3 separate regions of the Homo sapiens genome follow, and regions 2 and 3 are each linked to region 1. Evidence: fine-mapped expression QTL. A gene starts in region 1. Each other region holds a variant in brackets. All regions are shown on one strand. Distances are between the middles of the regions.

Region 1 (4,113 bases):
AGAATCCCTGCGGAGATCAAAGGAGCCTCAGCTCGTTTGAAAGAGTCTGAGCTGGTTTTATGAAGCTGTGCTCCGGAGGCAAGGCCGCTGGGACTTCCTGCTGTATCTCGGGCTCCCCTGTGGAAGGCCTATTAGAGCCTCACAGCTTCACTTTATCTCTACTTCATCGTTTGCTAAGTGACAGCACCAACATTTAAAATGACTGTTTAATACTGTGGAGGGAAAAGCAACCTGGGAAGAACTACTTTTTAAAATAATTGCAGGCCGGGCATAGTGGCTCACGCTTGTAATCCCAGCACTTTGGGAGGCCCTGAGGTCAGAAGTTCGAGACCAGCCTGGCCAACATGGTGAAACCCTGTCTCTACTAAAAATATTTTTAAAAATTAGTCAGGCATGGTGGTGCGTGCCTATAATCCCAGCTACTCGGAAGGCTGAGGCAGGAGAATCGCTTGAACCCAGGAGACGGAGGTTGCAGTGGGCCGACATGGTGCCGTTGCGCTCCAGCCTGGGCAACAGAGTGAGACTCCGTCTCGAAAAAAATAAATAAATAAAATAAAATAGTTGCTTTAAAGAAAGAGAGAGAGAGACACAGACCCAGTTGAAGCCGATACTGCAATCCCACAGGAAACCTTGTAGTGATGAGCGCGTCTCATCACTTTGCACCAGGAGGTGGAAAGTATCACACAAATGTCACACAAAACGTCGAACTGAGCATCACTCCAGCACAACCAGGCTACCAAACTTCCCGCGACGTGTGTGGCACAAAGGCTGTGCAAAGAAGAACTTCTGCAACCTGACCCTTTCCTTCCACACGTGAGGGAAGCAGACGATGGAAGGAAAGGGAGACGTCCAATGCCCACGGCCTACAACCAACGCGTGGGCAACGCCCGGGGCCAGCAGCTCCGGAGCCCTCTGGGACGGTGACTGCCCACGCGCCCCGCTGGCTGCATCTCGGCCTGGCAGGCTCCCCTCACTTCCATACTCATTTGAGAGCCTCACTTGAGGTTCGTAGCTCCTGACACGTTGGGCTTATGAAACATGTATCCGTGTGATCACATGTCACCGTGATCACAGAACCGTTCTCTTCCAAACCAGTTCTGGGTTGTAGGGACTGGGGAGAGAGGGAGTTGGAATCGCCAGCTGCCCCTGGCCAGGGGATCCAGAGGTTTTGAGCGTGAACTGACTTTTCTCAGAGCTCTGCTCTGTAGGCTGCGCACGCGGGCCCCGCACAGCTGTGGGGTGAAGGGTCTCCGCCAGTGGACCCGGCCAACCACATCCCACAGTGAGGCGCAGGCTTCACTTGCAGATGAGGTTCCGGAGCTGCCCCCAGACCTCCGCTGGGAATCTTCCCGAACGCAGACTGAGCTAGTCGAGAACACTAAAGGAGAAACTCCAGTCTGGCCACCAGCCAGTCACCTTCCCTCAGCCCCTGGGAGACGCGAAGGAGGCTCCCGGGCCGGCTCCTCGGATTTTGGCAGGGGCCGCACGCGGCAGGGATGTGGCGTGCGGGCGTCCAGTTACAGTGGGAACCTTCACCGTCAGCACAGCGCTGTGTCGGGGACAGCAGGAGCGCCTCGCCTCTCCAGGCCGCCCCCCGCCCCGCAGCCAGGACGCAGACCCCCGACCTGCGCACGGACGGGTGACCCTCCACCTGCCCAGCTCTCCTGGGAACTCCTGGGCCAGGGCCCGGGCCGGCCCCGCCTCGCATAGCCCCGAGCCGGTCCTGGCAGGCGCGGCCGTGCAACTTCGGGGCTGCGGGTGGAACCGGGAGCCCAGGAGCCCAGGCCGGAGGCTCGAGGCGGCGACAGGGGTAGGGCCGGGTGCGCTGTCGCCAGCAAGCCTTGTCCTGCCCTGCCCGCCCCGCCTTGCCCGGGCCCCAGCAGGAAGGAGGGCTGCGTGGGGGCGCCGCGGCCGCGAGACCGCGCGGAGGAGTCTCGAGGGAGGGCGGGGGTCGTGGTGCGCGGAGGTGACACTGGCGGATGTCCCGGGCCCGCCCGGCACTCACAGTACACGAAGGCTAGGGCCTTCAGGAGCACGATCCGGGTCAGCCAGAAGGTGCCCGTGTGGAGATGGGCCGGAGAGCCTGCGGGGCCACGCCCCGGCGCGGGCGGCGACTCAGGCTCCGGATCCGAGTACCCAGTCTTCCGCCTCCTCAGCGACTCCGCGGGCGCCGCCATTGTTGGGCTGTCAGGGCGCATGTGCGGGGAGGGCGCACTCCCGGAGGCCCCGCCCATTCTCGGAGGCCCCGCCCATTCTCGGAGGCCCCGCCTCTCCCTGGCCGGCCCTGCCCACGGCCGAAGGCCCCACCCACACCCCGGGAGGCCCCGCTCACAGTCCCGGAGGCACCGCCCCCTCCAGCCGGCCCCGCCCACGCGCGGGAGCGGGTGCCCGGAGCCTGCCTCCTTCGCAGTTCTCGCTGGGCGCTGCTGCGGGTAGGGCGCGGGGCCGGGTACCTGGGAGGTGGTGCGCGTCGCCCGACCCGAGCTCACTGGGGCAGGCACGCGTGCCTTCCGTCAGTCCGAGTTGCAGAGGCCAGGTGCCCTCCCCCAGCCAGGCGCCTTCCCAGCTGTGGTCCTGGGGAAGGTGGGCTGCACAGGCCCTGGCGGTGCTACCACTGCGTGCCCCTGCCTCACAGCTGACACTCACTCTCTGCGGAGGAGGGTGCTAGGGCGATCGTCGCAGCCAGCAAGGGACAGAGTAGGCAGGGCTGTGCCTGGAATGCTCGGGGGACCCTCCCCTTTCTCCCAGCCTGAGCACCCTTCCGCCTTTGCACAACCCAGCTCCTGCCTGCCCTTGGGACTGGACTTCAAGCTGTGGGGGAAGAGGGGGACTCAGGACTCAGGAGGGAAGGGCTAACTGCCCAATGCCCCAAACAGAACATGAAGGAGGACGCCAGCACTCTACACTCTGATGACTGGAGCGGGGTTCTGGAGGCTGATGTGAAGCGGGTGCTAGGAAGGGCTGGGGTCACAGGCATTCCTTAGAGGAAAGAAAGGGCGTGAGGCTAGAGTAGGCATTGGAGACCTAGGGGTTAGTGAATAAACTGTGGGGCACTTAGGTGGAAGTGCAGATTTCTCCTTATTCATTTGTCAGCACTCTTTACGTATGAAAAATCCTGTTCTTTTGTGTATATTGGAAATATTTGTCCTGGTTTTTTGTTTTTGTTTTCATGTATTCTTCTCTTTTGCCTCTCTAGCTTTCCTAGTGTTTTGGCGTATCAATTATCGCCACTGGGTTGGTCAAATGACCCGTCTTTATTGCTTGTTTAATTACCTGTTTAATTATATCTTCACCACCTGCAGTGTGAGCCTTGTGTGGGCAGGGACTGACTGTGGACATCGGGCCCCCAAATCCAGGCCTGACCAGCAGTGGCCCGAGCTTCCTCTCAGCCTCCACCTTCCCTGTGTTGCTGGGGCCGTAGCATACGTGTACATCTTATGGTTTAATTCATTTTTAGTTTCCATTTCTTTTCTATGAAACCCCCCTTAGGAGCCCAGCTGTGAAATGGGACCCTGTTAAAGATGTTGCAACGGGTACGAACACACAAACATCCTCCGCATGCTGGCCCAGCCTCCGGGAGCGTGGTGTGTGCCTGAGGGCTCGGAGCCTTGGGGATCGCAGGAGGCATCGGCCCTGGCTGGCGCCCGGCACCCAAGTCCCTCCACAGAGCCCACGACCCGTACCTCTCCTCGTGACCTGGGGGCCAGCTTAGGAAGGGCCGGCACAGCCCACACTGTTCCCCTCATCTGTGGGGAACAGGGAGCCCCACACCCTGGGACCACGCCTGCAGAGCGGGCCCTGTCTGGGTGCCAGGCCTGCTAGGGGACGGACGGCGAGAGGGACTGCCCTGCGTCAGGTGTGGCCCTGCGCTGTCCTCAGGTGGGGCTGCCCTCACAAGGAGGCTTTGTGCACAGCTTCCCCTCGCTGGGCCGAGCTGCTCTCCCCGCGAAGGGCACAATGGGGCATTGTGCAGAGCAGAAAAGGGCCTCTTGTTCCAGCTTCCAGCGCTCCGGGCTCCGGCTCTGCATTTGCCCAGGGTGGGAGCAGTCAGCGGAAGGGTCTGCTGGGAGCTCCTGTTCTCTCTGAGCTCAAGTTTCCCTCAGGGTCTGCTCT
Region 2 (4,113 bases), 110 kb before region 1:
CCGGCTCCTCAGCCTGCTGCTGAGCTGCAGCTGCTCACAGGGTCCCCCACGGACAGAGGGGCTGCATGAGGAGCCCCCACCCTGAGCACAGGTAGACCCCCAGCAGACCCCGGGCAGGGCAACTGTTCCAGTCGGCACCCTCAGCAGTGAACAGCGCAGCAAGGGGGAAGGGCGGACGGGGGGCAGCTCCGGGAGGGGAGACCCAGCAGGGCCCACTTGGCAGAGGGACCGGCCCGGGGAAGGCCAGGAGCTTCACGGGTGGCACTGAGCAAGCCTGAGACCGTTCACAAGGCCCCAGTTTGAGCCCCAAGTGTCCCCCGCCTGGGAAGGTGGGGAGAGGAACCTACTGCTCATGGTGTGGCGTCTCCACCATCAGGCCAGTCCTGGCGCAAGGTGCCTGGGGGTTTCGGTCCACGGGGCAGTCCGAGGCTGTGAGGGAGCCAGGCCGGGACCTGTTTCCTGAGGGCGGAGCCTCTGCTTCCCAGGGCTTCAGGCCCTTCCCTGCCTGAGACGTGCAGATGCTGGCTGGCTGCTCTCCTCTGTCATGCCCGAGTGGGATGAAGGCCCCCACCCCCATCTCCCCTGGAGCAGGGTAGCGGGCAGGTCTCTCTGCTGAGCCCTGTATAAGGTCCCGCCTGACCCCTGGTGACCAGGCCTGGTTTAGGCCATACTGGGTCTTGGTCCCTGGCTGGCAAGCCCTCACTGGACTCTCGGAGGACTGGGCATTTTCTCCTGGGGGTGGGACGAAGCCCCCTCATGTCCAGGGTTGCTCGGCTGCCCCGGAGGAGGAGGCGCCAGGAGGAATTGTCACCGTCACAAGCTCCCGGCCCTCCAGGCCCCTTCGCAGTTGTGCAGCAGGAGCGGAAGCTTCTCAGCCCACAGGGCGGCTGCTGCCTGGCTGGGATCCATGGCAGAGCTGGGCCCCAGCTGCCCGGTGGGTGTGATGGTGCAGCCATAACAGGACCCTCTCATGGCCCCTGGAATGAGCCCAGGCAGGTGCCAGAGGCTTCACACTGCACCAGGGCCCGGTAGCGACTGTCTGGGCTGCTGTCATTATTTGGGGCTTCTGGTGACCTGCACACAGCTGTGCTCTGGGGGCTGGGGGTGGAGACCTTGGGCCATGCCCCTTAGGCTGGCAGGGTGAGGGCCTCTGGGTCCACCCGGCTCCTCCTGGCTTTGAGTCTCTTTGGGTCTGGGTGTGTGATGGATGATGATTCTTCTCTCCCCAAGTCTGAATTACGCCAGGAAAACCGGGAAGACAGAGACCCTCTGGGTGGAGGAGGGTCCCTGAGGCGCCTGATGGGAGAGAGGGATCAGCAGCTCCAAGAGGAGTGGGGTCGGGCCTTTGGAAAACCTCCCGGGCAGCCAAGACTGAGGGTGATGCTGGCAGTTGGTGGCTCCCGTCCACTCCAGGAGGGCACTGCCCACTGCCCTGGGCCCCAGGGGTCTTTCCTGGACCCCTTGGGCCTGAGGCTGCCATGGTTTTCCTTGGCTATAAGGACGGCAGCGGCCAGCATGGGGACTGAGGCCAGGTGGTGCCAGGCAGAGAAGTCACACTGGACCCCGAGGTCGACCTCTGAGCAGCTCAGCAGCAGACTGAAGGGACGGGCTGGAATGCGGCCGTGAGGGCGCTGGGCTGTGCGGGCAGCATGGTCCCTGCACACTCTCCTGGGCCTTGCTAGGGCAATGCAGTCCCCAGGCAGGCCCACCCTCTCCCAAACCCTGCATTTAGTGAGGCCGGGAGGGTGGGGATCCTGGGAAGGCCTCCTGCAGTGGGATTGCCCATCTTTCCCAAATTCCTGCTCTTGCTTTCTGCTCCTTCCCAGGACAGGGTCAAGGCCTAGGGGGCCCAGGGCCTGGTCTCTGACATCAAGAGCTGGAACTGCAGTTTGGAAAGGGTTTTGGAAAGGGTCAGAACCCTCTGTGCCAACTGGCAGGTTGGTGGGAAGGGGCCCCAGGCCCCAGCGGCCTGAAGGGTTGCATTTCATTCCTGCAGACAAAGTACCCGAGAAGGCCATGGCACCGCCCCGGAGGGCTTGAGAGTGTTGAAAATAGGGGATCTCCCAGCCCTTTTGAAATAGACCCTACTGGCAACAGCTGGGCATCTTGCACAGCTATAGTAGGGATTGCAGCCAGGGCCTGACACTGAGGCCACAGACACGGGTCCCATCCACGCCCGGACCCCCGTGTCCTTCCACACCCTCCCCGACCTTCGGCCTCCTTGTGTGATTTCAAGAACGTATGATTTCAAGAATGAGTGGAACCCTGCGGCACGTACC[C/T]GCGGGGCAGGCGATTCTCACGCCAATTCTCAGGTTCCGCCAGGTCGTGTGATGGAGGCTTCCTTCCTCCTCGTCGCTGACCGGCGTCTGCGGCGTGAGTGCACCCTAGTTTGTGCGGTCGCTCTCTTGTGGAAGGACAGCTGAGCTCTTTGCAGTTTTTGTCTGTGACGGCTGCCGTAAACCTCTGCACGGGTTTCTGCGTGAACCTGGGTTTCAACTCTCTGGCTTAAACGTCCATGGAAGCAGCTGCTGAGTCCACTGCAACTTCGGGTGTCCTTTTTGAGGAGCCATTTTACCCTCCCAGCAACAGCCGAGTGACTCGATTTCTTGGTATCTTTGCCAGCATGTGGGGTTGTTGCTACTTTTATTCCAGCCGTTTTGATGGGTGTGCAGTGGTGTCACGGGACGGGTGTGAGTGGTGTCTCGGGACGGGTGTGAGTGGTGTCACCGGACGGGTGTGAGTGGTGTCTCGGGACGGGTGTGAGTGGTGTCACGGGACGGGTGTGAGTGGTGTCACGGGACGGGTGTGAGTGGTGTCTCGGGACGGGTGTGAGTGGTGTCACGGGACGGGTGTGAGTGATGTCACGGGACGGGTGTGAGTGGTGTCACGGGACGGGTGTGAGTGGTGTCACGGGACGGGTGTGAGTGGTGTCTCGGGACGGGTGTGCGTGGTGTCTCGGGACGGGTGTGCGTGGTGTCTCGGGACGGGTGTGCAGTGGTGTCTCGGGACGGGTGTGCGTGGTGTCTCGGGATGGGTGTGCGTGGTGTCTCGGGATGGGTGTGAGTGGTGTCTCGGGATGGGTGTGAGTGGTGTCTCGGGATGGGTGTGCGTGGTGTCACGGGATGGGTGTGCAGTGGTGTCTCGGGATGGGTGTGCGTGGTGTCTCGGGATGGGTGTGCGTGGTGTCTCGGGATGGGTGTGCGTGGTGTCTCGGGATGGGTGTGCGTGGTGTCTCGGGATGGGTGTGAGTGGTGTCTCGGGATGGGTGTGAGTGGTGTCTCGGGATGGGTGTGCAGTGGTGTCTCGGGATGGGTGTGAGTGGTGTCTCGGGATGGGTGTGAGTGGTGTCTCGGGATGGGTGTGAGTGGTGTCACGGGATGGGTGTGAGTGGTGTCTCGGGATGGGTGTGCGTGGTGTCACGGGATGGGTGTGAGTGGTGTCTCGGGATGGGTGTGCGTGGTGTCACGGGATGGGTGTGAGTGGTGTCACGGGATGGGTGTGCAGTGGTGTCTCGGGATGGGTGTGCAGTGGTGTCTCGGGATGGGTGTGCAGTGGTGTCTCGGGATGGGTGTGAGTGGTGTCTCGGGACGGGTGTGCAGTGGTGTCTCGGGACGGGTGTGAGTGGTGTCTCGGGACGGGTGTGAGTGGTGTCACGGGACGGGTGTGAGTGGTGTCACGGGACGGGTGTGAGTGGTGACTCGGGACGGGTGTGCAGTGGTGACTCGGGACGGGTGTGCGTGGTGTCTCGGGACGGGTGTGCAGTGGTGTCTCGGGACGGGTGTGCAGTGGTGTCTCGGGACGGGTGTGAGTGGTGTCTCGGGACGGGTGTGAGTGGTGTCTCGGGACGGGTGTGCAGTGGTGTCTCGGGACGGGTGTGCAGTGGTGTCTCGGGACGGGTGTGAGTGGTGTCACGGGACGGGTGTGAGTGGTGTCACGGGACGGGTGTGAGTGGTGTCTCGGGACGGGTGTGAGTGGTGTCTCGGGACGGGTGTGACTGGTGTCACGGGACGGGTGTGCAGTGGTGTCACGGGACGGGTGTGAGTGGTGTCTCGGGACGGGTGTGAGTGGTGTCACGGGACGGGTGTGAGTGGTGTCACGGGACGGGTGTGAGTG
Region 3 (4,113 bases), 35 kb before region 1:
GTCCACTGGGTGGCTGCCCTCTTCCCACCCTCCAGTATTGACTGCGTTGTGTGGGATGGGGAAGACCTCCGGTCCCCTCCACCAAACAAAGCACAAGCCAAAGTGCCCACCAGCGTGAGTGCCGTGAGCACCGTGAACCTTCTCTATGCCGAGGGGCACACAGCCTTGAGCGTCCACGGGGGATGGGCCTGTGGGTGCTTTCCCTCTGCCCCAGGGAAGCGGTGGTAATCACACCTGTGAGATGCCGACAATCATGCGTGCGACCATCCGTCTCTAGGTGCCCGGGGCCTGGAAGCCCAGGAGCTCCCACATCCAGGGAGGAGGCACGGATCAGATCACAAGCGCCCATCACTGCCCTCCGTGCATACTGGGAAGGCTGATGGCAGAGGCTAAGGAAGGGGAGAGGCCAGGAAAAGTGCGTGAAGATACATACCAAACACACAACGCTCAACTCTCGCAGAGCTTTCTCTAAATGCATCTCACTTACCGAAAGAGTACCTGAAAAACAAAAGAAGAAACGAGTATTAACACTTTGGCTTGTTTCAACCAAAAACCCACTGTTTCCCCACTGAGTGAAGCCCACCCTGGCACCCAGCACGGTGTGGGGTCAGGGAAGCCCTGCGAGGAGGACCTGCCCGCTGGGCATTAGGGGAACAGGAGCCCCTCCCCACGGCTCACACACAGGCAGGCCCAGAACAGGCAACCAAAACATATTCCAAGATACACCTACTAAGTACCCATAGAAATAAAAAAATATGTATTTTGCGAATGAGTGAATTAATACTTATTTTTTTGCAGCATCAATTAAATGCCACGGCAAATGTCATACTCTGGAATCTGAAAATTTAAGGACATCACATGACCTCGAGCGCAGCTCATTAGAAAAGGGATCTTAAATGAAAGGAATTGGTGGGAAAGGCTGGGCAAGGCCTGTGTCTTTACTATTGAATCCCAACCAAAAGGGGTTTCAGTGATGCTGTGACCCGCTTCTTACCCTCAGACAGCAGAGGCGTGGGCAAGCAGCACGGGTGTCTAGAGGAGGCAGAGCCGCGGGAAAGCAACACCAATGCATCCCACACCTGCCTCAGCCTCTGACCTCTCTAACCCCACCCCACCTCACAGCAAGACCTACCCTTGGGCTCTAGAAGAAACCCCCTCTGCCACCTATGGTCCCGCAAGAGGCGGGCAGGATGCACCAATGCCCGCATGAGGAGCCCTGCCTCAGGTGCTCAGTGCCACACCTGACGTAGAAGGCACAGCATGTGGTTTGTGGACACGAAATGTACGGAACAGGCCGGTCCACAGACACAGGAGGTAGATTGCCAGGTTTATCCTGGGGTTGATCAGAATTTTTTTTTTTTTTTGAGACACGGTCTCATTCTATCACCCAGGTTGGAGTGCAGCGGTGCATAACCTCACTACAACCTCAAGCTCCTGGGCTGAAGCAGTCCTCCCGCCTCAGCCTCCTGAGTTGCTGGGACCACAGGTGTACACCATGATGCCCCACTAATTTTTGTATTTTCTATAGAGGTTTTGCCATGTTGCCCTGGCTGGTCTCAAACTCCTAGACTCAGGCGATCCTCCTGCCTCCACCTCCCTAAGTGCTGGGATGACAGGTGTGAACTGCCCCAGCCAGAATGTTTTCAACGTGGTGCTGATGGCTTCAGAGTCCATGAATATGTACGCTGACTTGTACACTTTATGTCAGGGTTGTCGGTTGTCCAATCTTGTGGCTTCCGTGGGCCACAATGGAAGAAGAAAAATTGTCTTGGGCCACACATAAAATATACTAACACTAGTGACAGCTGATGAGCTAAAAAAAAAAAAACTCATAATGTTTTAAGAAAGTTTATGAATTTGTGTTGGGTCTCATTCAAAGCCATCCTGAGCCGCGTGTGGACAAGCTTGCTTTAAATGCAGTTTTATGGTATGTGAATTCTATCTCACTAAAGACATTAAGGAGCAACGTTGCCTAATGAAATCCACAGGAATGAAAAGCTACAGGGTGTGGGA[C/T]GGCCCTCAGGGCCCACTGCCCATCCCAGGGCTCCCTACATCGTCCGACCTTTGAATATGTCTGTGATTTTCCACCTTGACATTACGATAAAAGCACAGCAAAGGCCATGACAAACGACATCTGAGCCGTGGGGGAGGTGGGCGGGGACAGAGTACTGGAGGGCTCATTCTTCAACCGCATCAGGTGTGTGGCTGCCCCAGTGGCTCTGATATCTTTTTAAATCATCCCTTACCCGGTAGAGGTCCACACTATTTATAGGTAAAAGAGTACGAAGTCTAGATTTGCTTTTCACTCCAGAGGAAGAAGGCTGGGAGGGAGAGAGGGCACCCCGTTGGCTGAGGAAGGAGGCTGGGAGGGAGAGAGGGCACCCCGTGGGCTGAGGAAGGTGGCTGGGAGACAGAGGGGGCACCGTGTGGGCTGAGGAAGGAGGCTGGGAGAGAGGGGGTACCCCGTGGGCTGAGGAAGGAGGCTGGGAGGGAGAGAGGGCACCCCGTGGGCTGAGGAAGGAGGCTGGGAGGGAGAGAGGGCACCCCGTGGGCTGAGGAAGGTGGCTGGGAGAGAGAGGGGGCACCGTGTGGGCTGAGGAAGGAGGCTAGGAGAGAGGGGGTACCCCGTGGGCTGAGGAAGCAGGCTGGGAGGGAGAGAGGGCACCCCGTGGGCTGAGGAAGGAGGCTGGGAGGGAGGGAGGGCACCCCGTGGGCTGAGGAAGGTGGCTGGGAGAGAGAGGAGGCACCCTGTGGGCTCAGGAAGGAGGCTGGGAGAGAGGGGGTACCCCGTGGGCTGAGGAAGCTGGCTGGGAGGGAGAGAGGGCACCCCGTGGGCTGAGGAAGGAGGCTGGGAGGGAGAGAGGGCACTCTGTGGGCTGCAGGATACACTCCCTGCCCCCCTTTCCGTGACCAAAATCTTCCAAGCAACCGCTGTACACATTGGCTAATGCTAGAAATAAATTTACCCCCAAAATGTTCCCAATATATAACCTTAGTTGAACGGAGAAAGGAAAAGGAGCTGATTTTTCAAATCCATAGAGAATAAAAGCTTTGCTCTTTTATTAGCCAGGTGTGGTGGCGCACACCTGTAGTCCCAGTGACCTTGGGGCCGAGGCTGGAAGATGGCTTAAGCCCAGGAGTTCCAGGCTGCAGTGAGCCAAGATCGCGCTACTATTGCACTCCAGCCTGGGCGACAGGGCGGGAGATCCTAGCTAAAAAGACGCAGCCTCACGCTTTTATCAGAAGGGACCAAGGCCTGGAAGAGTTTCAGTGACTCAGGGCCACCAAAATACAAGCGTTGTGCAGAGAAGGGGTGAGTCCAGACGCAGCTGCCTTCACATCGGCTGAGGGTGTTCGAAAATGCATTCTTCTGTCACTTCACCTGCTTTGAATTTTGCATTTCAAGGCTGCCTGATAAAAGAATCTTTAAATAGCAGGTTTTAGCTAAGGTAATGACACGAAAAACTAAAACGTCTTATTACTTTCATAGCTTTTATTACATTTTCAACAGTTGGAACTCACGTTAGAAGATACCGACTCCGTGGAGTTCTTCTGGGTTTGTTCTGCTGTTTTGTTCTTTAAAGAAACTCAAGTCCTTTCCTGGACAGTGGGACGTAGATTTTGCTTTTGGATGGTCGGGGTTAACACGCTCCCTCTGACTGCCTAGTGAGGTCAGGAACCTGCTCCCCTGTGAGCCTCCACACCTGACTGACAGGCCGCTGGGGTCTCTGTTGACTGACAGGCTGCTGGGGTCTCTGTTGACCGACAGGCTGCTGGGGTCTCTGTTGACTGACAGGTCGTTGGGGTCTCTGTGCTAGGGAGGCAGCAAGACCCCCGATGCCCTGCAGATGCTGCACACGGCCCCAGCACAGGCCCTGCCCCTTGCACTGGATGGGGGCTCCCATTTCTATAGGAAGCTTTTGATTTAAAAACACATTTGGCTCCAGCTACTTATCATCTGTAAAAAGACTTCATGTATAAATATTTGTTAAATTTTATGCTCCCCATTTTGGGGCAGGCTAGTTGTAAATTTGTAAGAAATCTTCCAGTTTCTGGCCTAGTGCAAAGAACTTTGCTGGAGGCCTATCTAGAGTGTGTAGTAGGGACTTAATC

The links. PIP is the estimated chance that this variant, and not a neighbour inherited with it, causes the effect.
Region 2: its variant is fine-mapped to the expression of LMF1 in whole blood (TOPMed, PIP above 0.99).
Region 3: its variant is fine-mapped to the expression of LMF1 in whole blood (INTERVAL, PIP above 0.99).

What each region holds. Positions count from the first base shown.
Region 1 is chr16:968,783-972,895 of GRCh38, forward strand. It overlaps LMF1 (lipase maturation factor 1), which reads right to left and starts at 2,202. Exons shown (of 11, transcript NM_022773.4): 1 at 2,006-2,202. The coding sequence starts at 2,198. RefSeq lists enhancers at 407-1,398, 3,381-4,113 and a silencer at 1,444-2,613.
Region 2 is chr16:854,760-858,872 of GRCh38, forward strand. All of the region lies in intron 10 of LMF1 (lipase maturation factor 1), which reads right to left. Among named protein-coding and RNA genes, the nearest start is that of GNG13, 56 kb to the left of the region's middle. The variant C/T (reference allele first, on the strand shown) is at 2,280.
Region 3 is chr16:933,757-937,869 of GRCh38, forward strand. It overlaps LMF1 (lipase maturation factor 1), which reads right to left. Exons shown (of 11, transcript NM_022773.4): 3 at 488-498. It overlaps LMF1-AS1 (LMF1 antisense RNA 1), which reads left to right. Exons shown (of 2, transcript NR_110946.1): 2 at 1-768. Among named protein-coding and RNA genes, the nearest start is that of LMF1-AS1, 15 kb to the left of the region's middle. The variant C/T (reference allele first, on the strand shown) is at 2,014.